Homo sapiens: one gene and its partners. The protein of the gene in region 3 binds, or shares a complex with, the protein of the main gene of each other region. Each region holds a gene or a part of one and is shown on either strand. Other genes may lie near its edges.

The links.
Region 1: SRRM2 (region 3) and SNW1 share a complex: the UniProt entries of both Homo sapiens proteins name them as parts of the minor spliceosome.
Region 2: SRRM2 (region 3) and SNRNP40 share a complex: the UniProt entries of both Homo sapiens proteins name them as parts of the minor spliceosome.

The regions. Positions count from the first base shown.
Region 1 is NC_000014.9:77,757,757-77,765,791, forward strand, and holds the start of SNW1 (SNW domain-containing protein 1), read right to left. Parts: upstream 3,401-8,035; 5' UTR 3,372-3,400; coding exon 3,358-3,371; exon of another isoform or gene 3,012-3,357; intron 1-3,011. UniProt on the Homo sapiens protein: Involved in pre-mRNA splicing as component of the spliceosome. As a component of the minor spliceosome, involved in the splicing of U12-type introns in pre-mRNAs.
Region 2 is NC_000001.11:31,286,389-31,293,788, forward strand, and holds part of SNRNP40 (U5 small nuclear ribonucleoprotein 40 kDa protein), read right to left. Parts: intron 6,961-7,400; coding exon 6,831-6,960; intron 5,619-6,830; coding exon 5,525-5,618; intron 3,032-5,524; coding exon 2,866-3,031; intron 1-2,865. UniProt on the Homo sapiens protein: Required for pre-mRNA splicing as component of the activated spliceosome. Component of the U5 small nuclear ribonucleoprotein (snRNP) complex and the U4/U6-U5 tri-snRNP complex, building blocks of the spliceosome.
Region 3 is NC_000016.10:2,762,264-2,770,063, forward strand, and holds part of SRRM2 (serine/arginine repetitive matrix protein 2), read left to right. Parts: coding exon 1-5,998; intron 5,999-6,733; coding exon 6,734-7,021; intron 7,022-7,800. UniProt on the Homo sapiens protein: Required for pre-mRNA splicing as component of the spliceosome. As a component of the minor spliceosome, involved in the splicing of U12-type introns in pre-mRNAs.

The DNA of each region.
Region 1 (8,035 bases), on a different chromosome or scaffold from region 3:
CTAGCTCACAGCTCGAGCTCCTTAAATGTTGTAGGAGAAATAAATACACTCTTCCCCAGCACTCACCATCTTTATTTCACTACAGCCTTCTTATCTTTTCTTAAACAAGCCATCTCAGGATCTTTACATTGGCTATTCCTTCTGCCATCAAATCAATCTAATCATCTATCTATCTATCTATCTATCTATCTATCTATCGCAATCAATCAATCACAATTTTTCTCTATTGCAATCAATCAATCACAATTTTTCTCTATCTATCTATCTATTGCAATCAATCACAATTTTTCCGGCTGGGCGAGGTGGCTCACACCTGTAATTCCAACACTTTGGGAGGCCAAGGCAGGTGGATTACTTGAGGCCAGGAGTTCGAGACCAGCCATGCCAATATAGTGAAACCCTGTCTCTATTAAAAACACAAAAATTAGCCGGGCGTGGTGGCGGACGCCTGTAATCCCAGCTGAGGCAGGAAAATCACTTGAACCTGGGAGGTGGAGTTTGTAGTGAGCTGAGATTGCTCCACTGCACTCCAGCCTGGGTGAGAGTGAGACTCTGCCACAAAAAAAAAAAAAAAAAAAAAGAACAAATTTTCGTATGCTTTTATAGAAAATTCTTCTCCAGATCTCCAGATCTTTTCTTTTTTGATTGCTCCTTGCTGGGCAGGGCTATCCCACAGGCAGTATGCCTAGAGTAGCCCCAGATCTTTCAACAGCTTGCATCTCAGCACTCTTGTCTCTGCTCAGTTACCTCTCTCTAGAGCTGTTTTCTGACCACCTTACCCAAAATAGCCACTTCACCCCAAACTCTGAGTCACTCTCTAACCCGGTCTTTATTTTATTCCTAGCATGTATTACGTGAAATTGCATTATGATTTTACTCACTCTGTCCCATTAGAATGTAAGCTAATTAGAATTCTGTCCCACTAGAATTCCAATTCTGTCCCATTAGAGTGTAAGCTCCATGTGGATAGAGTATAAAATTAAAACAAACTCAGTTTCTCCTATTATTTCACTCAACAATCAACAACACACAACACTTCTGATACCAGATGTGTGATGGTTTTTCCCCACATATCAAGCAAGCTATCAACTGTGTCTACTGGACACCAGTCAAGTGTCCTCTAATTCAATTCAATTTTGATGTTATCTACCTGGAGATACTGTCAGATGTTACAGGTTGAAGGCTCAGTCCCACAAGACTGCCCTTACTTCAGATGCCAACAGTAGGTCCAAGGCCACTGGCCAACTAACTACAAACCAGGGTTCCCATGACCTCATCTTCAGGTTCAACTAATTTGCTAGGGCAGCTCACAGAACTCAGGGAAATGTGTTTACTGATTTAAAGGATATTACAAAGAATACTGAGGAACACCAGATGGTAGGTATGGAAAGCTCTGGAGTCCTCAAGACTGGCCATTTAAAGATCGCATTCTGCCACTGCAATTTTAAGCACGCAATACCCATGACAGGCCAGATGATGTGGTGGCTCACGCCAGTAATGCCAGCACTGTGGGAGGCTGAGATGGGTAGATCAGATCAGTTAAGCCCAGTTCAAGACCAGGCTGGGCAACATGGCAAAACCCCATCTCTACTAAAAAAAACAAAAATTAACTGGGCATCATGGCAAGCGTCTAGAGTCCCAGCTACTCTAGGGCGCTGAGGCAGGAGGATCACCTGAGCCTTGGGAGGTTGAGGCTGCAGTGGGCTGTGATTGGGCCACTGCACTCCAGCCTGGGCAAGAGTGAGACCCTATATCAAAAAATAAAATAAATAAAAAATACCCATGACATCTCTAGAAATTTTTCCTGTGTGTCCATTTCAAATTCCACCTTTTCCACAAAGTCTCCCCTCATAACTTTACTAGTCTATGACACAGTGTCTCACACCTGGGGAGCACTCAAATGTTTGCTGCCTGTAACATTTACTAAACAAACTCTTGGCTGGGCATGGTAGCTCATGCCTGCAATCCCAGCACTTTGGGAGGCCTAGGTGAGAAGATTGATGGAGGCCAAGAGTTGGAGACCACTCTGGCCAACGCAGTAACACCCTATTTCTAGTTTTTTTTTAAAAAAATTTCAGATGCCGGGCATGGTGGCTCATGCCTGTAATCCTAGCACTTTCGGAGGCCGAGACAGGAGGACTGCTTGAGGCCAAGAATTCAAGACCAACCTGGCCAACACAGCGAGACCGCATCTCAAAAAATAAAGTTAAAAAAAAAAGCAAAAAAATTTTAGAAACGAGGGTGGGGAGAAAACTCTCCAGCCCACATAACTTATTCCATTCAATTCTTTTTGCACTAAGGTTAGTATTACACAAATGCACATTTTGTGTTCTGTAATTGTTTTATGTCTGTATACCTTGCACCCCTATCTTCCCTGTTGCCAAAGACAGATTTTCTTCTGTGTACACAACCCCCAGGACAGAGCAAGGCACCAACAGTAATTCCCAAAATAATTTTTTGATTAAAACTTTTGGAGTCATACTGTCATCAGCCAGAAAAAAAAACATGCGTGAGGAGAATGAAGGGTGTTAAAAGAGCTCAAGCTGATGTCCTGAAAGGATTACTTTATCTATAACCTTCCTGAACACTAGCCTTTTCCTGTTGAGTTCGCATGGAAAGTTTTTCCACTTAAAATGGGGCAGCAAGGCTGGGAACTAGTAGGAGTAGCGTAACTTCTCGGACTCTCCCACTGAAAAGCATCTTTTTCTTAAAGGCGGAGAGCACTTTACAGACGGTTACTAAGGTAACCGGAAACAGCAAAACTGAGGTGGTTCTATCTACGGAAGAAATTCTAAGCTCCAAAGTTAAAATGCGGAGCAGTGGCGCATATCAGCAGACGGCGGTCACTACTGTGGCTCATTTAAATCTGTGTTCAGCTCCGGGCCTCTTTTTTCAGGAATCCTTGTTTCGGGACACCCAGTGGACAGCGAAAGGAGAGAGACCACCACAGGCAAACGGCCGGAAAGCCGCGCAGTCGCAGCCCGCGCGCTTCACTCCGCCCAAATAAGCCACTACCGTCACCAACCCCATCTCGTTCGCCCGAGCCGCGGACCTGAGGGAGCGCTGTCCGCTCCCCGCAAGATGCTCACGCGAAAAACCCACTCTTCAGTGTCTGAGACCACTCCGCAGCTTTCGGCCTCGGTGAGCGGGTGAACTAAACCCGGGAAACCGCTGAAAGACCCCAGCTTCGACTAGGCCTAGTCGTAGCGGCGGCCAGCGGGAGGGCGTAGCCGTAGTCTTGGCCCACGTCATTCTGTGCCCCGGGTCAGGTCACCGCCCGGAGGGTATGGGAAGAGAAATGAAGAAGACTGGTACTCCCAGACCCTTCCGTATCGAGGACCCCAATCAACAACCCACCTGGTGAGCGCCATCTTCTTCCGCTTCTTCCAGCGCGAGCGACAGCACCGCTGGGCGGGTCTTTCCAGATGATGAGGAGCGGAAAGGAAGGAGTGCGCGATGCGCAGGCGCTCTGGCCGAAAAGGCCTTCTGGGATTTGTAGTTCTTTGAACAGGAGTACCGTTTGTATTCTGACCAGACCAAGCGGTTATCAAGGAATAATCTCTTCAGCTAGCAACAAATGCATAACTCGATCGCTTATATGCGACATGATAGGGCGTTCCCTAGGCAAAATATCAAAGATACAGGGAGATGCCTTTTAGGCCGCTTTATTACGTTCCTTACTCAGTCCCGTTCCCCGAGAAGGGGTACAAAATACAAAAGCTTCCCGGGGACAGCTACTTTAAGTAAGAGTGATAGGGCGTTTAAAACGACAGGTAATAATGAGACTAGCTAATGGAGAGTCCTTGGACTCTCTGAAAACATTCACACTCAAAACTTTTCTTTAAACCATATCCTCTCACCCGCCAAAACACTCTCTTGGGGAGATATTTCGTAATCCTTGGTAATTTACCGAGTGTCTGGGTTCTCTGCCCAGGGTATGACAAGGCTGAAATCTCATAGGAGGCTCTGGAGAAAAATCCATCTCCTAACTCATTCTTGTTGGCAAAAATCAGTTCCTGGCGGTTGTGGGATCGAGTTCCCTGTTTTGTTTTGTGCTGTTAGTGGTGGCCACCCTCAGCTCCTAGGGGTCACTCTCGAGTCCTTCCCACATGAGCCCTATTTATTGGTAGTTCACAACATGGATATTTGCTTTCTGAGGCACATCTTTCTGACTCCTCTTCTGCCACTGTTGGAGAAAAATGCCCTGCTTTTAAAGGGCTCATGTGATTAGATCAGGAGCACCTGGATAATCTCCCTATTTTAAGATCAACTCTTGGCCGGGCGCAGTAGCTCACACTTGTAATCCTAGCACTTTGGGAGGTCGGGGCGGGCGGATTGCCTGAGCTCAGGAGTTCGACAAAGCCTGGGCAACATGGTGAAACCCTGTCTCTACTAAAAATACAAAAATTAGCTGGGCGTTGTGGCGCGCTCCTGTAGTCCTAGCTACTGGGGAGGCTGAGGCAGGAGAATCGTGTGAATCAGGAGACGGAGGTTGCAGTGAGCCAAGATCACGCCACTGCACTCCAGCCTGGCGACAGAGTGAGACTGCGTCTCAAAAAATAAAAATAAATAAATAAATAAATAAATAAATAATATAAAAGAATAGCTGGGTGTGGTGATGTGCTCTTGTTTTCTCAGCTACTTGGGAGGCTGAGGTACAAGAATCGCTTGAACCCAGGAGGTGGAGGTTGCAGTGAGCCGAGATTGCACCATTGCACTCCAGCGTGGGTGACAAAGTAAAATTCTGTCTCAAAAAAAAAAAAAAAATCAACTCTGCCACACCGCATAACAGAATCAGAATCTTCATAGTCATGGCCCCAGGGGTTATGTAGGTCAGGTACTGTGGGGGTTGGGTGAGGAGGAGATCTTGGGGGATATCCTAGAATTCTGCCTGCCACAGCATGTAAACCAAAAAAACAAAAAGAAAAAATCTTTTGGTAAATACAGGATTGTTAATCACATTGTGTAATATAACCTGCATGGCCTGGGAGCCCGAAGATTAGAGTTTAAGATGTAGCTTTGGCTGGGTGTGGTGGCTTGTGCCTTTAATCCCAGCACTTTGGGAGGCTGAGGCGGGCAGATCACCTGAGGTCGGGAGTTTGAGACCAGCCTGACCAACATGGAGAAACTGCGTCTCTACTGAAAATACAAAATTAGCCGGGCGTGGTGGTGCTTGCCTGTAATCCCAGCTACTCGGGAGGCCGAGGCAGGAGAATCGCTTGAACTCGGGAGGCGGAAGTTGTGGTGAGCCGAGATCGTGCGTCGTTGCACTCTAGCCTGAGCAACAAGAGTGAAACTGTCTCAGAAAAAAAAAAAAAAAAAAAAAAGATGTAGCTTCAGCACCAATAAATTCTTATAGGGCAAGTCATTTAATTTATTTGGGCCCCAGTTTTATTGAACTTAAAATGCTGATCATGTTATCTGCTTTACCTATATTTATATAAATGTAAAATAATTATATACAATACAGCAGAGTATGAGCCTTAAATGAGGTAATGTAGGTGGATATGTTTTTACTTAACTCTTAAGTACTATGTAAATATGTTAGTTATTACAGTTAATATTTTGGTTGACAGTGATCTACTTCAACCTCTGCTCCAGGAATGTATTATTTCTAAAAGGAGAAAAACAGAGAAGCAAATTATAGAACGTCCTGGAAGCCAAGATCAAGGAGCTTAGATTTAGTTCAGCAGGTGATTTGCAGCTGAAGGAGGACTTAAGTAGAGGGCCTGGGTCAAAGGAACAGGCAAGAAAGACAATTCTTAAGGCAGAATGGGTTTCTATGGCAATGAGAGACAAAGGAGGCTACTGAGGACAAGGTTAAAATAATTAACATGGGAAATCAGTAAGACATAGACCAAGACCTGGGATGCAGGATTGAAAGAACAGGGTGGAGAAGAGCTTTTGCAATCCACTCTCATTTTCCACAGAGGCACATCATGCAAGGCATTTCCACCAGTCATAGTCCCTCGCTGTTTTGGGGGTGTGTAAAGAATAGAAACTGACTTTAATAGCAATCCTATCAAAACAATTAAGAAAGCAAATCTACTGCAAACGTGATACAATATTATACCCAAAGGCCTAGTGCTTTCTTTGGTTTTGTTGGGGAGGGGGTTTGGTGTTAAGCTATGCTGAATCTTCAGTGCCTATCCATCCCTCATTATCATAGGTAATTAGCAGCTGCCTGCTCATGTAGAGAGCCCAGTGCATGCTGGAATCAGTAATGCGCCAGGTTGCAAGAAGCAATCAATTCACTCCAGTCTTAGAATTCTGGATAGAGAGTAGAATTGTTCTCAGAGAACCTAGGGCCTAATTTGATTCCTAAGTAGGTGTGGCTATGTAGCCACAAGTAATATAGCTTGTGAGGTGGTAGGGAGGACAAGTTAAGCACATATTCTGGAGTCAGCTTTCCTGCCTTCTGATCCCAGCTCCCTAATTTATGAGCTGTAGATTCTGGATAAGTCACTTCTCTCTGTCTCAGTTTTCTCACTGGCCAATAAAAAGGGTGAGGGGCGTGGAATCAGTATAACTTATCCTCAATAAAGCTATTGGGAGGATTAAATGAGTTAATCATGTGAAGTGCTTAGAAAAATGCCCAGCATAGAGTAAGCGCTCAAAAATTAATTATGCTTTCTGGCTTTAATGAATTGGCCTTAATTTATTAAGGTTCAGGTTTTGCATCTGCAAAGTGAGGCAGTTGAACTCAATTTTATTTCTGGGGTACCTTCCCACTAACATTTTCTACTATAGGATGTTTTTTTAAATTTACTTCAATGCCAGTATTTTATGCTCTGATGCCATTATGCTTTAGTTATTATGGCTATATTATTATAATCATTCTCTGATAAAAAGTAGAGCTGCTCCACCACACCGTTCTTACTTTTTGGATGTGTTTTACGTGCCCTCTCAATGTTTAAAATTTTTTTTTAATTAAAATATTGGTTTGCATTAAAGCATAGTTAAAAAGGCTAGAGCCAATGATTACTTAGGAACTGCGAAAGAAATAACGTATCTTTACGATGGAGAGATTTGGCTGTCATCACTTTTGCTTCACTAACAGTGGAACAATCTGACACTAGGTGCTTTTAATAGGAAGTTCCCCAGTTTTCTTTCTTTCTTTCTTTCTTTCTTTCTTTCTTTCTTTTTTTTTTAGACCGAGTCTTCCTCCGTTGCCCAGGGTGGAGTGCAGTGGTGCGATTTCGGCTTACTGCAACCTCTGCCTCCCTAGTTCAAGCGATTCTCCTGCCTCAGCCTCCCGAGTAGCTGGGATTACAGGCATGAGCAAGCACGCCTGGCTAATTTTTGCATTTTTAGTAGAGATGGGGTTTCACCATGTTGGCCAGGCTAGTCTTGAACTCCTGGCCTCAAGTGATCCACCCACCTTGGCATCCCAAAGTGCTGGGATTACGGGTATGAGCCACTGCACCTGGCCGGAAGTTCACCAATTTTCTGATCAAACCAGACCTAATGTCCAGTTCACAAGAAATTCAGGGGATAGAGTAACAAGTTTAAAAGCATGAGGAAACAATCAGTAAAATCCAGAATGTGAGACATTCTACAAGACAACTGACTGAGACTCTACAAAATGTCAATGTCATGGAATGGATGTGAATAGAATAGATGAAAACAGATTGATGAGACATGACACATAAAATTAGTAAACCTTGATGGGATTCTGGTTCAGTTGGGGAAAACTATAAAAAATATTCTTGGGACATTTGGAGAAAGTTGCATATGGAGTGATAATAGACAACATTGTAGAATTTTTGCTAAATTTCTTAGGAGTATTAATGACATTGTGGTTAAGTAGAAGAACGTTCTTATTCTTGGGAGATGCATGCCAGAGGATTTGGGGATGAAATGTGTCAACTTACTTTCTTCTTTTTTGTTTGTTTTTTGTTTTGAGACACAATTTTGCTCTTGTCACCCAGGCTGGAGTACAGTGACGCAGTCTTGGCTTACTGCAATCTCTGCCTCCCGGGTTCAAGTGATTCTCCTGCCTCAGTCTCCCAAGTAGCTGGGATTATGGGCGCCT
Region 2 (7,400 bases), on a different chromosome or scaffold from region 3:
CACCCTTCCCTACTTGAATTGTGATTCCCATTCTTGGTTGAAGCCATGTGTGACTCTTCCTTAACCAACTTGGGTCATTCCTCTGTGTGAACACCCTCATCACTCTGCTACGGCTCTTTTCCAGTCTGCACTTCTCCAAGCATGCAGTCATCATCTTGCTCAGTCTCAGACTCCCTACACCAAATCATTTCTACCCTGTGTGGATGCCCTCAGTTCAGGCTTTGACATCCACATTCTCCCCGTACTGCTTCACGTACAGGCGACCCTTTCACCCCATTAGGGCACTGTTGGGCTGCTGCCCCTCCCTCACCCTCAAATTCCCCACACTGGTTACCTACCCTGTGTTGTATGGATGCCTTCCTCACTCTCTGACTACTCCCTACAATGTACTGCCCTGCCCAGTGTGGATGCTCTCCTTACCACACTTGTGCTCTGACACTCTACTCTGGGCCACCTTGGCCCATCTCTAACTAGAGCACCTTCCCTGCTTTGGCCTATATAACTGGCTTTAGGACTGAACTGCTCATGAAAGGGAAATTTATATATATATGAGTACATACACACATACACGCAGTATTTCACTTAATTTTATTAGAAGAATGCACTTGATAAAAAGTTTGAAAACGATCTGTATGAATAATGCCCAGAATGCTTTTAGACTAAAAATGCAAGTGCTGTTGGAAACCTTTGCTTTCTGTTAAGAACTCTGACATGTAAAAAGCAACATGACTTTTTTTCCTCTTAAACTGAAGTTATTCAATTCCTGTACTTGCAACCTAGTAACAAAAATACAAGAACACAAAGCATTCCAACTTCACAAGTAACTGAAAAGTACATTGCAAAAAGCTGTTTAATGATGCCTTAAATATAAATATACTGACATTAAAAATAGGAGCTGGTTAAAAAGCAGTCATCTTTAGGTGATGTGACATACTGCTTATTAAAAAAAGTATTAACTTGAGTAATAAGGTAAAAATAACTATTCCAAATCATGTTTAATTAAGGCAGAAGAGAAGCAAAAAACCAAAAGAAGGCAGACAGAAAGGACATATACTCTTTTTCTACTACCTAAATAGTTCCTAGATATTTATTACAGCAGGCCCTCAATAATAATGTTAACAAAATTCACTGGGGCATTTCCACCTCTTACTATCTTCTGAAATGACAATTAGTAAATCAGCTACTGTTAAGACTCTCCAACTACAGTGACATCTAGGTCAGAGCTCTGGTTTAGAAACCAATCTTAAACAACAGACTCTCCTCCCATCCAACCATCAAGGGGCCCCAAGTGATTAGGTATAAGAAAACCACTCAGTAGAAAAACGTCTCAGCCAAGTGTGGTGGCTCACGCCTGTAATCCCAGCACTTTGGGAGGCCGAGGGGGGCGGATCACAAGGTCAGGAGTTTGAGACCAGCCTGGCCAATATGATGAACCCCTGCCTCTACTGAAAATACAAAAACTAGCTGGGCGTGGTATGGGTCCCTGTAGTCCCAGCTACTAGGGAGGCTGAGGCAGGGGAACTGCTTGAACCCAGGAGGTAGAGGTTGCAGTGAGCTGAGATTGCGCCACTGCACTCCAGCCTGGGCAACATGGTGAAACCCCATCTCTACCAAAAATAGAAAAATTAGGCAGGTATGGTGGTGTGCACCTGTAATCCCAGCTACTCAAGAGGCTGAGGCTGGGGAATCACTTGAACCCGGGAGGTGGAGGCTACAGTGAGCCAAGATTGTGCCACTGCACTCCAGCCTGGGCGATAGAGCAAGACCCTGTCTCAAAGAAAAAAAAAAAAAAGCAAATTCATTAATTCATTTAAAAAGCAATAAGAAGTATGGGGGTGTAGTTTCCCAGATGTACTCTTTTGAAGTCCCTCACTGTTTAACAATTAAAATATAAACCAGAGCCCAAAATTCGTGTCAAAGAGAGAATCAAATGGTTGGTACTATGATGTACTGTGTCCTTGTGTGCCTCTGAGATAAATTATTATTTCTAGGCCTCAGTTTCCTTATTTATAAAATGAGGATGCTCAGTGAGATCAGTGGCTCCCAGAATGTGAGACTGGCTACACTGAATCACTTGAAGGACACATTAAAATATCTGATTCCCATTGCAGATCCACTGAACCAGATTCTTTGGGTATTTTTAACAGGTTCTTCAGGTGATGATGATATAAAGATAGGCTGGCAACCATCTGACTAAACGATGTTTAAGTTCCCATCTTGTGCCATACTAAAACTATTCACTGAACTTTTTATATATTGTCTATAATCTCAGAACAGCCTTTTTTTTTTTTTTGCTACCTCCCTGTTGGTGGAGATACTCATAACAGCCTTGAAAGACACGTATATTACTGTCACAGTTCTTTTTTTTGAGACAGAGTCTCGCTCTGTCGCCCAGGCTGGAGTGCAGTGGTGCAATCTCTGCAAGCTCCACCTCCCGGGTGCACACCATTCTCCTGCCTCAGCCTCCCAAGCAACTGGAACTACAGGTGCCCGCCATCACGCCCGGCTTATTTTTTGTATTTTTAGTAGAGACGGGGTTTCACCGTGTTAGCCAGGATGGTCTTGATCTCTTGACCTCGTGATCCACCCGCCTCGGCCTCCCAAAGTGCTGGGATTACAGGCGTAAGCCACAGCACCCGGCCTATTTCAAGTAACAATTTATTCTATGGTTCTATTATTATTCTGTAGGGTAATTAAAACTTGTATTAAATGTTTTATTTTAAATGGGGAAAAATTTCAAGTGTGTTATGGGAGATGACTGCTAAAATTAAGTTTTGCACAGGAAGCTAGAGTACAAGTGGCAAGGCAAGATAAGGTTCACATCACATCACCTCAGAAACTGGAACACGGAGAGACAATACCCACCTTAACTGTGCCATCGTCACTGCCAGTGCAGACAAGCTGAGGGCCTCTCCTGGCTGGATAACAGGAATTCACAAAGGAAGTATGTCCCTTTAGCCTTTTAACCCTCTCACCTGTTTCACTATCCCACACAGCCACGGTTTTATCTGTGGATGCTGAGAAAAGCATACTAGAAAGTAAGAGAAAGAATAAAAAAGAAATAAGTGAAGATAAACAGTAACAATCTATCTTTCCTACTTGACAAAAGGTGCCAAATTTTTCAAGATCACTGACCTGCTGTGCTACGCCAGTTTGCCCATGATGCTGGAATGCCTCACCCTACCAAAATCCTATTTGTCCTCTAGGCCCAGATGGCCCAGATAAAAGATCTACCCCTGTGAAGTTTAAAAAATTCCCCTTCTTTGAGTCCCCATGACATACATCTAATGTAGCAGTTTGCTCTATCTTTTCCTCTTTTGTGATAGCTAACATTTTAAACATAAGACACCCTCTCACTTGGAAATGTTTAATAACTCCCTGGTGCTGCAGAGATCAGACAGACTGTGGTACCGACCTGACAGCTGAGTGACTCCAATCTTTTCTCTTTACCAAAGTTTTTCTTTTGTCTCTGAGGACAATTTCTTTCTTTCATTTTTTTTTTGAGATGAGATCTTGCTCTGTCACCCGGGTTGGAATCATGGCTCACTGCAGCCTCGACCTCCTGGGCTCAAGTGATCCTCCCACCTCAGCCTCCTGAGTAGCTGGGACCACAGGTCTGTGCCACCATGCTCAGTTAATTTTTAAAAATCATTTGTAGAGGCAAGGTCTCACTATGTTGCCCAGGCTGGTCTTGAACTGGGCTCAAGCAATCTTCCTGCCTCAGCCTCCTACAGTGCTAGGGTTATAGGCGTAAGCAACCACGCCCAGCCTCTGAGGATGATTTCTAAGTTATAACTGATCTTATAATGCTTTCTTTTTTCATTTTTTTTGAGATGGAGTCTCACTGTGTTGCCCAGGCTGGTTTTGAACTCTTGGGCTCCAGGAATCCTCCTGCCTCAGCCTCCCAAATAGCTGGGATTATAAGCACATGCCACCAGGCCCAGCTTTCTAATGCTTTATTTAAAATGTATACAATGCTATGTATCAATTGATGGAGCACCCTAAGATTTTAGAGGTCAGAAATGTAAAACAATGAATGTTTACCAGACTACCTAACAATGTAATTACTTTTGTATAGCCAGATTTCTATATTATCTATAATATATTCTAAAATAATATAGTCATTAAAATGACGTTTATGACATCAGATGTTGGCTGAGCAATGTTAAGAGAAAAAAGGAGCAAATAAGATTGTACACACAGTTCTGGCCAGGTGCGGTGGCTCACACTTGTAATCCCAGCATTTTGGGAGGCCAAGGCGGGCGGATCACAAGGTCAGGAGATCGAGACCATCCTGGCTAACACGGTGAAACCCCATCTCTATTAAAAATACAAAAAAATTAGCCGGGCATGGTGGCGGGCACCTGTAATCCCAGCTACTCAGGAGGCTGAGGCAGGAGAATGGTGTGAACCCCGGAGACGGAGCTTGCAGTGAGCCGAGATCGCACCACTGCACTCCAGACTGGGCGACAGAGCAAGACTCCGTCTCAAAAAAATAAAATAAAATAAATAAATAAATAAAAAAGATTGTACACATAGTTCTAACAAATATGCAACAACTAAACAGTTCTGAGTAGAAAAAAAGGCATTAGAAAAATGTATAAAATTAACAGTGATTGGCCAGGCACGGTGGCTCATGCCTGTAATCCCAGCACTTTGGGAGGCTGAGGTGGGCGGATCACCTGCGGTTGGGAGTTCAAGACCAGCCTGACCAACATGGAGAAACCCAGTCTCTACAAAAAATACAAAATTAGCCAGGCACGGTGATGCATCCCTGTAATCCCAGCTATTCTGGAGGCTGAGGCAAGAGAAACACGTGAACCTGGGAGGCGGAGGTTGCAGTGAGCCGAGATCGTGCCATTGCACTCCAGCCTGGGCAACAAGAGTGAAATTCCGTCTCAAAAAAAAAAAATTAACACTGATTATCTTTGGAGTGGTAGAAATATAGACTATTTTTTCATCTTTCTGCTTTTTTTGGTTTCTCAAAAGAAATGATTTTTATAATAGAAATAGCTGATTTCAGGCCAGGCATGGTGGTTAATTATTGTAATCACAGCATTTTTGGGAGGCTGAGGCAGGTGGACTGCTTGAGCTCAGGAGCAATATAGCAAGACCATGTCTCCACAAATGATTTTTAAAAATTAGCTGGGCATGGAGGCGTGGGCTTGTGGCCCCAGCTATTTGGGAGGCTGAAGTGGGAGGATCCCTCGAGCAAGAGGTTGAGGCTGCAGTGAGCCATGTTTGTGTCACTGCACTCCAGCCTACATATAAAAATCACATTTATTTTATGTCTTAAAAAAAGAAAAATTTGTCTGGGTTGTTGAAATGACCGATGTAACATCTTTATATTTGCATACACAGACTATAAACACCTCACTTGGGGTGACAGTGATAAATCGGATACTAAAGTAGCTACCCAAAATTAGTAGTTTTTGATAGCAGGGTCTCCTGAGAAAGGATGAAAGGTGAAAGGACGCCAAGAATTAGTATGAGAAGCTGTCCTTCCATTATGCAGAATACTCACCTGCCATCTGTGTTGTAATGCAATTCCATCACTGCTCCACTGTGTCCCTTCAGTGTGGCATAGTTATCACAGTCACCATAGACATTCCACAGTACTGTTAGGGAGATGGGTTCTGTGAGCATTACTAGGCAAAGGGTACTTATAAATTTATCAGAACAACAGTTCTCAGGTCAGGCACGGTGGCTCACACCTGTAATCCCAGCACTTTGGGAGGCCGAGACGGGTGGATCACTTGAGGTCAGGAGTTCGAGACCAGCGTGGCTGATACGGCGAAACCCCATCTTTAATAAAAATAAAAAAATCAGCCAGGTGTAGTGGCAGACGCCTACAATCCCAGCTCTTGGGAGACTGAGGCAGGAGAATCACTTGAACCCAGGAGACGGAGGATGCAGTGAGCCGAGATCGCGCCACGGCACTCCAACCTGGGTGACAGAGTGAGACTCCGTCTCTAAAAAGCCAACCGACCAACCAAACAAAAAAAACTATGTAGTTTGTCTGATGAAATTAAGCCTATCAATAATTCATATATGTTCTGCAAAGATCCCTAAGCAATCCAGACGTTTGGCCACTAGTAAGCTTAAGGATCATAGAGCCGGAACATCCAAATCAAAATGGGCAGTGAAGACGGGTATCATCCACCCGGCACCGAGGAAAAGAGTTAACAGAAAAGAGCCAAATAACTCATTTCATCTCATAATCTGGCAAGAAAGTAGCAACAGAAGCATCTGATTTTTTTTCCTTCTGGCTTCATTTGCTGGAGTATAAATAAAACGACTTTTTCTACTTACTTCTCAAAAATGGGTATGAGAAATTCTTATTTCTCAAAAATGGAAATCTGGTAGTAGATCCTAATGATGTACAGGTAGATTATTTAAGGGAGTTACCACTTTAGGATTCCTTCCTTCCCATATGCTAGCTAGGATTCTGGGTGTGAATTAAGAGGACCTTATACCTTTGGGAAAATAAAAGTTATTTCTCTCCTCATTACTGCCATTAACCTGTTATGTCTAGATTGCTAAGTGCCTTGGTAAATTAGCTGGAGATTTGCCTCTATGAGGAAGACATTCTCAAACCAGAACAACTCACTTTCCAACTAGTAAAATAATGGCTTCTGTATTTACCCCATGGACTCCAAGTTCTACACCCAAGATCATTCAGCATGTTCATGCCCCAATTTTAGCATATTAGCCATGCAGCCTGTTATGTTGCCAACATAGAGTGATACCTTCTGTGGCACCCAAGATTTAAAAAAAAAAATCACTATCTGGCAGGAAAAATTATTCCAGATTCAAAAACTATGCCTCACATATCAGTCGGTCAAATCCTGCAGATGCTAAGGTGGATCCGTTGGGGTGGAACTTGCAGCAGTAGACTTCCCCTTCATGTCCAGAGAGCAGCATGATTGGGGCTTGAAGGGAGGAACATCTTGGAGGTCCCTAAACAAAAGAGAAGCACAAGGTAACTACTGCATACAGACAAAGGAGGCTACAAAATTAGGGGGTGGGGAGTGGAGGGAAAAGACCAAGAAAACAATGATTAAGTGGGTTTCATCTGACTTACAGAATGGTAGCTCTTCTCATATGAATGCCTCCAACTTGACACTCTCTGAAACTTTCCATTATCTACCTGTTATAATGACTCTCTTGTTCACTCTCTCAGCTCTTGTTGTACGACCAACTTTTTTTTGGAGATAGGGTCTCACTCTGTCACCTAGGCTGGACTGCAGTAGTGTGATCATGGTTCACTGCAGCTTCAAACTCCTTGGCTCAAGTGATCCTCCTGCCTCAGCCTCCTGAGTAGCCAGGACTACAGGCATGAACTAGCATGCCATGCTAATTTTTTTAGTTTTTGTGGAGATGAGGTCTTGCTACGTTGC
Region 3 (7,800 bases):
CCCGCCGGGGCAGGTCCCGCTCTAGAACACCTGCCAGGCGGAGATCACGATCCAGAACTCCCACCAGGCGTAGGTCTCGGTCTAGAACACCAGCCCGGAGGGGCAGGTCTCGGTCTAGAACACCTGCTAGGCGCAGATCTAGGACCCGATCACCAGTACGACGCAGGTCTCGTAGTAGATCACCAGCCAGGAGAAGTGGCAGGTCACGCTCTAGAACCCCAGCTAGACGTGGCCGCTCACGCTCCAGAACCCCAGCCAGACGTGGCCGCTCACGCTCTAGAACCCCAGCTAGACGCAGTGGTCGCTCACGCTCCAGAACACCAGCCAGGAGAGGGAGGTCTCGGTCTAGGACACCAAGACGAGGAAGATCCCGCAGTAGAAGCTTAGTTAGACGTGGAAGATCTCACTCTAGAACACCTCAAAGAAGAGGCAGATCTGGCTCATCTTCAGAGCGGAAAAACAAATCCAGAACATCTCAAAGAAGAAGCAGGTCCAATTCAAGCCCAGAAATGAAGAAATCTCGCATTTCTTCAAGGCGGAGCAGGTCTCTCTCTTCACCACGGTCCAAAGCAAAATCTCGCTTGTCTTTGAGGCGCAGCCTTTCAGGGTCTTCCCCATGCCCTAAACAAAAGTCACAGACACCACCCAGGCGCAGTCGCTCTGGATCCTCCCAACCTAAAGCTAAATCTAGAACGCCACCCAGACGCAGTCGCTCCAGTTCTTCTCCGCCACCTAAACAGAAATCTAAGACACCATCAAGACAAAGTCATTCCAGTTCATCTCCTCATCCTAAAGTGAAATCTGGAACACCACCGAGGCAAGGGTCCATAACAAGTCCCCAGGCCAATGAGCAATCTGTAACGCCACAGAGACGGAGCTGTTTTGAATCATCACCTGACCCTGAGTTGAAATCTAGGACCCCTTCTAGACATAGCTGCTCAGGGTCCTCTCCTCCTAGAGTGAAATCTAGCACACCTCCCAGACAGAGCCCATCTAGGTCATCATCTCCACAACCCAAAGTGAAGGCAATAATATCACCAAGACAAAGAAGCCATTCTGGCTCCTCTTCTCCAAGTCCTAGTAGGGTGACGTCGAGAACAACTCCACGGCGAAGCAGATCAGTATCTCCCTGCTCCAATGTGGAATCCAGATTGTTGCCAAGATACAGTCATTCTGGGTCCTCCTCACCAGATACCAAAGTGAAACCTGAAACACCGCCAAGACAAAGTCACTCAGGGTCTATTTCACCATACCCCAAAGTAAAGGCCCAAACTCCACCGGGGCCAAGTCTTTCTGGATCAAAGTCACCATGTCCCCAAGAGAAGTCTAAAGACTCACTAGTTCAAAGTTGCCCTGGATCCCTCTCTCTCTGTGCAGGAGTAAAATCTAGCACACCACCAGGCGAGAGCTATTTTGGTGTCTCATCTCTGCAACTGAAAGGACAATCTCAAACTTCACCAGACCACAGATCTGATACTTCAAGTCCAGAAGTGAGACAGAGTCATTCAGAATCACCATCTCTGCAGAGCAAATCTCAAACATCACCTAAGGGAGGTCGGTCCAGGTCTTCATCTCCAGTCACTGAGCTGGCATCCAGATCTCCAATAAGACAAGATAGAGGTGAGTTCTCAGCGAGTCCTATGTTGAAATCTGGAATGTCTCCTGAGCAGAGCAGGTTCCAGTCTGACTCTTCTTCATATCCTACAGTGGACTCGAATTCTCTCTTGGGGCAGAGTAGATTGGAGACTGCTGAATCAAAAGAGAAAATGGCCTTACCCCCTCAGGAGGATGCTACTGCATCACCTCCTAGACAGAAAGACAAATTTAGTCCCTTTCCAGTACAGGATAGGCCTGAGTCTTCACTGGTATTCAAAGACACACTTAGAACCCCGCCAAGGGAAAGAAGTGGTGCTGGGTCATCTCCAGAAACAAAAGAGCAAAATAGTGCATTGCCTACGTCAAGCCAAGATGAAGAGTTAATGGAGGTGGTAGAGAAGTCTGAAGAACCCGCAGGCCAAATCCTGTCTCATTTGTCTTCAGAACTTAAAGAAATGTCCACAAGTAACTTTGAATCATCTCCTGAAGTAGAAGAAAGGCCTGCTGTGTCTTTGACTCTTGATCAGAGCCAGTCACAGGCTTCTTTGGAAGCAGTAGAAGTCCCTTCAATGGCCTCATCTTGGGGTGGGCCACATTTTTCTCCAGAACATAAAGAACTGTCTAACTCCCCACTCAGGGAGAACAGCTTTGGATCACCTTTAGAATTTAGAAACTCAGGCCCACTTGGTACAGAAATGAATACTGGATTTTCTTCTGAGGTTAAAGAAGATTTGAATGGACCGTTTCTTAATCAGCTGGAAACAGATCCATCTCTAGACATGAAAGAACAATCGACAAGATCCTCTGGACACAGCAGTTCTGAGTTATCCCCAGATGCAGTGGAAAAGGCAGGGATGTCTTCAAATCAGAGCATCTCTTCACCTGTGCTTGATGCTGTACCCAGAACACCCTCGAGAGAAAGAAGTAGTTCTGCATCTTCTCCTGAAATGAAAGATGGTTTACCCAGAACTCCATCAAGGAGAAGCAGGTCTGGGTCTTCTCCAGGACTTAGAGATGGGTCTGGGACTCCCTCGAGGCACAGCCTGTCTGGGTCCTCTCCTGGAATGAAAGATATACCTAGAACGCCATCTAGAGGGAGAAGCGAATGTGATTCTTCCCCAGAACCGAAAGCTTTGCCTCAGACTCCTAGGCCGAGGAGTCGTTCTCCATCATCCCCAGAGCTCAACAACAAGTGTCTTACCCCCCAGAGAGAAAGAAGCGGGTCAGAATCATCAGTTGATCAGAAAACTGTGGCTCGGACTCCCCTGGGGCAGAGAAGTCGTTCGGGATCCTCTCAAGAACTTGATGTGAAACCCAGTGCATCCCCTCAGGAAAGAAGTGAGTCAGACTCTTCTCCAGATTCTAAAGCCAAGACAAGAACCCCACTTCGGCAGAGGAGTCGGTCTGGATCATCTCCAGAGGTTGACAGCAAATCTCGACTATCCCCTCGGCGCAGTAGGTCTGGTTCCTCCCCTGAAGTGAAAGATAAGCCAAGAGCAGCACCCAGGGCACAGAGTGGTTCTGATTCCTCTCCTGAACCTAAAGCTCCAGCCCCTCGGGCCCTTCCCAGACGAAGCAGATCAGGTTCATCAAGCAAAGGCAGAGGCCCTTCTCCTGAAGGAAGCAGCAGTACCGAGTCCTCTCCTGAACATCCGCCCAAATCCAGAACTGCTCGCAGAGGTTCCAGGTCATCACCAGAGCCCAAGACCAAGTCTCGTACACCACCTCGACGTCGCAGCTCTCGATCATCTCCGGAGCTAACAAGGAAGGCCAGACTGTCCCGTAGAAGCCGCTCTGCCTCATCCTCACCAGAAACTCGCTCTAGAACTCCCCCAAGGCACCGGAGAAGTCCCTCAGTGTCTTCCCCGGAGCCAGCCGAAAAATCGAGGTCTTCACGCCGACGGCGCTCAGCTTCATCTCCACGCACTAAGACAACCTCAAGGAGAGGCCGCTCTCCTTCGCCAAAGCCTCGTGGACTCCAGAGGTCCCGTTCCCGCTCAAGGAGAGAGAAAACAAGAACAACCCGACGTCGAGATAGGTCTGGATCTTCTCAGTCAACCTCTCGGCGAAGACAGCGGAGCCGGTCAAGGTCGCGGGTTACTCGGCGGCGGAGGGGAGGCTCTGGTTATCACTCAAGGTCACCTGCCCGGCAGGAAAGTTCCCGGACCTCCTCTCGACGCCGAAGAGGCCGCTCTCGGACACCCCCAACCAGTCGGAAGCGTTCTCGCTCACGCACATCACCAGCCCCGTGGAAACGCTCTAGATCTCGAGCCTCTCCAGCCACTCACCGGCGATCCAGGTCCAGAACCCCCCTGATAAGCCGACGTAGGTCCAGATCTCGAACTTCACCAGTCAGCCGGAGACGGTCAAGGTCCAGGACTTCAGTGACTCGACGAAGATCCCGGTCAAGAGCATCCCCAGTGAGCAGAAGGCGATCCAGATCCAGAACGCCACCAGTAACCCGCCGTCGTTCAAGGTCTAGAACGCCAACAACACGCCGCCGCTCCCGTTCTAGAACTCCACCAGTGACTCGCAGAAGGTCCAGATCCAGGACTCCACCAGTAACCAGGAGGCGATCTCGAAGCAGAACTTCGCCTATCACTCGCAGAAGATCAAGATCCAGAACATCTCCGGTCACCCGAAGGAGATCTCGATCTCGCACATCTCCAGTAACTCGAAGAAGGTCCCGCTCTCGAACCTCACCAGTGACACGCCGCCGCTCTAGGTCCCGGACACCTCCAGCTATTCGGCGCCGCTCTAGATCTCGAACGCCACTGTTACCACGCAAACGTTCTCGAAGTCGCTCACCACTTGCTATCCGCCGCCGCTCCAGATCCCGTACTCCACGAACAGCTCGGGGTAAACGGTCCTTAACAAGATCTCCTCCAGCCATCCGCAGGCGTTCTGCATCTGGAAGTAGTTCTGATCGTTCACGATCTGCTACTCCTCCAGCAACAAGAAATCATTCTGGTTCACGGACACCTCCAGTAGCACTCAACAGTTCCAGAATGAGCTGCTTCAGTCGTCCTAGCATGTCCCCAACACCTCTTGATCGCTGCAGATCACCTGGAATGCTTGAACCCCTTGGCAGCTCTAGAACACCCATGTCTGTCCTGCAGCAAGCCGGCGGCTCCATGATGGATGGTCCAGGTCCCCGAATACCTGACCACCAGAGAACATCTGTGCCAGAAAATCATGCTCAGTCCAGGATTGCACTTGCCCTGACAGCTATCAGTCTTGGCACCGCTCGGCCTCCTCCGTCCATGTCTGCTGCTGGCCTTGCTGCAAGAATGTCCCAGGTTCCAGCCCCGGTGCCTCTCATGAGTCTCAGAACCGCACCAGCAGCCAACCTTGCCAGCAGGATTCCTGCAGCCTCTGCGGCAGCCATGAACCTAGCCAGCGCCAGGACACCTGCCATTCCAACAGCAGTGAACCTGGCTGACTCTCGAACGCCAGCTGCAGCAGCGGCCATGAACTTGGCCAGCCCCAGAACAGCGGTGGCACCTTCGGCTGTGAACCTGGCTGACCCTCGCACTCCCACAGCCCCAGCTGTGAACCTAGCAGGGGCCAGAACCCCAGCTGCCTTGGCAGCTCTGAGTCTCACAGGCTCTGGCACACCACCAACTGCTGCAAACTATCCCTCCAGCTCCAGAACACCACAGGCTCCAGCCTCTGCAAACCTGGTGGGTCCTCGGTCTGCACATGCCACAGCTCCTGTGAATATTGCCGGCTCCAGAACCGCCGCAGCCTTGGCCCCCGCGAGCCTCACCAGTGCTAGGATGGCTCCAGCATTGTCTGGTGCAAACCTCACCAGCCCCAGGGTGCCCCTTTCTGCCTACGAGCGTGTCAGTGGCAGAACCTCACCACCGCTCCTTGACCGAGCTAGGTCCAGAACACCACCGTCTGCCCCAAGCCAATCTAGGATGACCTCTGAACGGGCTCCCTCCCCTTCCTCTAGAATGGGCCAGGCTCCTTCACAGTCTCTTCTCCCTCCAGCACAGGATCAGCCGAGGTCTCCTGTGCCTTCTGCTTTTTCAGACCAATCCCGTTGTTTGATTGCCCAGACCACCCCTGTAGCAGGGTCTCAGTCCCTTTCCTCTGGGGCAGTGGCAACGACCACGTCCTCTGCTGGTGATCACAATGGCATGCTCTCTGTCCCTGCCCCTGGGGTGCCCCACTCTGATGTGGGGGAGCCACCTGCCTCTACTGGGGCCCAGCAGCCTTCTGCATTAGCCGCCCTGCAGCCAGCAAAGGAGCGGCGGAGTTCCTCCTCGTCGTCGTCGTCCTCTAGCTCCTCCTCTTCTTCATCATCGTCGTCGTCGTCCTCCTCCTCCTCTGGCTCCAGTTCTAGTGACTCAGAGGGCTCTAGCCTTCCTGTGCAACCTGAGGTGGCACTGAAGAGGTGAGGGAGCTTGACTTTTAGAAATCTTCAGTGGGGGAGGTATTGGGGATGGGTTGGGGAGTGGGGAGGGAGAAACCATGTCACAGGTGCTTGGCTCTTGGAGGAGGTATGGGGACCTTGACCCTCAAGCTGGGGGTAGAAGAGAATGCTGGGGCAGGGGGCGGAGGGAGGAGGAATGGGACAGATAAAAGTCTCCGAAGGTTCATTCTCTAGAGGATAATGATAAGTTTTCCGTCTCTACAGAGGACAGAACTAGAGGAAATGGACTTAATTTTACAGCAGGAGGGATGGCAGTTAGACCTCAAGAGGAACTCCCTGGGCTGGAAGGATCTTCAGAGGTCATCCCATCCCTCTCCCTGCCTCCAGGCAGGACGGCCCCTTCCCCAGCCAACCTGCACTCACAGGGGCCTCCCCAAGCTGCGGCTCTCCGAGGAAGGAGACTACCCAGCTTCAGCTTCCACACCTGAGCCCAGAGGCCTTATTCCTCCATCAGGGACATTCTTGAGGTTTAACCTTGATCCCTTATGCTGCGGGCCCCAGCCTGTTGCTTCTGTTAGCAGAGGTTGGGTCAGCTCGCACCACTGCTCTCCAGAGAATTGCTGGCTCACGTGGCTCGGAGAGCTCCCAGCGCCTTTCTCAGGCACCCCTCCCCCCACTGCCGTTCCTCCAGGCCAAGGAAGGTAGGGTTGGGGCTGGGGCAGCTTGTCTCCTTGTGACACTCCTCTCCTCCCACAGGGTCCCCAGCCCCACCCCAGCCCCAAAGGAGGCTGTTCGAGAGGGACGTCCTCCGGAGCCAACCCCAGCCAAACGGAAGAGGCGCTCTAGCAGTTCCAGTTCCAGCTCCTCCTCTTCATCTTCCTCCTCCTCCTCCTCCTCCTCTTCTTCCTCCTCCTCTTCCTCTTCTTCTTCTTCCTCCTCATCTTCCTCCTCCTCGTCGTCTTCCTCCCCTTCCCCTGCTAAGCCTGGCCCTCAGGCCTTGCCCAAACCTGCAAGCCCCAAGAAGCCACCCCCTGGCGAGCGGAGGTGAGTGCTGTCTTGCCTGAGTTGAAAGGTGGGTGGGGGAGTGACTTGTCCAGAGAAGGGGCCCTGGGGTGTGAGCTCCCCGCTGGGTGTCTCACGTGGCCTTGGGCATCTGGTTGTGGGGGAGGAGGCACTTGCTCTCCTCTCCCCATGCTCGTTGCACCCTGTTCTGGCGAAGGGCTGCGCCATCCACAGCGGCGCTCAGGCCAGGACCAGGGGGTCCTTGGTTTCTTCCTCTCCCTCCCTCAACACATAGCCTGTTCCCAGGGTTCTAGCTTTGTCTCCCTGTTGCTACTGCCAGGGCTCTGGTCTGGCCACCATCATCTTCTCCCGACTCTGTCCACAGCCTCCTCCCTGTCTCCCCGTCTCCACGCCATTCTCTTCCACATGTAGCCAGAGGGACCTTTCTAAAACGCACATCTGGCTACTTCCCTCCACTCCACAAATCCTTCGGGACGCCCTGTGGCCTGCAGGACAAAGCCCCACCTCTGCGGGAGTGGCGTGTGAGGCTCTTCACCAACGGGCCTTGCCCGCCCTGTGTTCTCCTCCTGCCCGCCCCCACACATGCCCTGTGCTCCAGCCACACCCAGCGCCTTGCAGTCTAAGGAGAGCCCATGCCTTTGGACATGCTGTTCCTTCTGCCTGGAATTTCCTTGTCCGCCTGGTGAACTCCTCGTTCTGCAAGACTCCGCTCAAAACAGCACCTTCGAGAAGACTGCCCTGCCCCTTCCCTGCCTTGCCCCATGTCCCCCTCCCTTGGGTCCCCAGAGCCACGCACATCC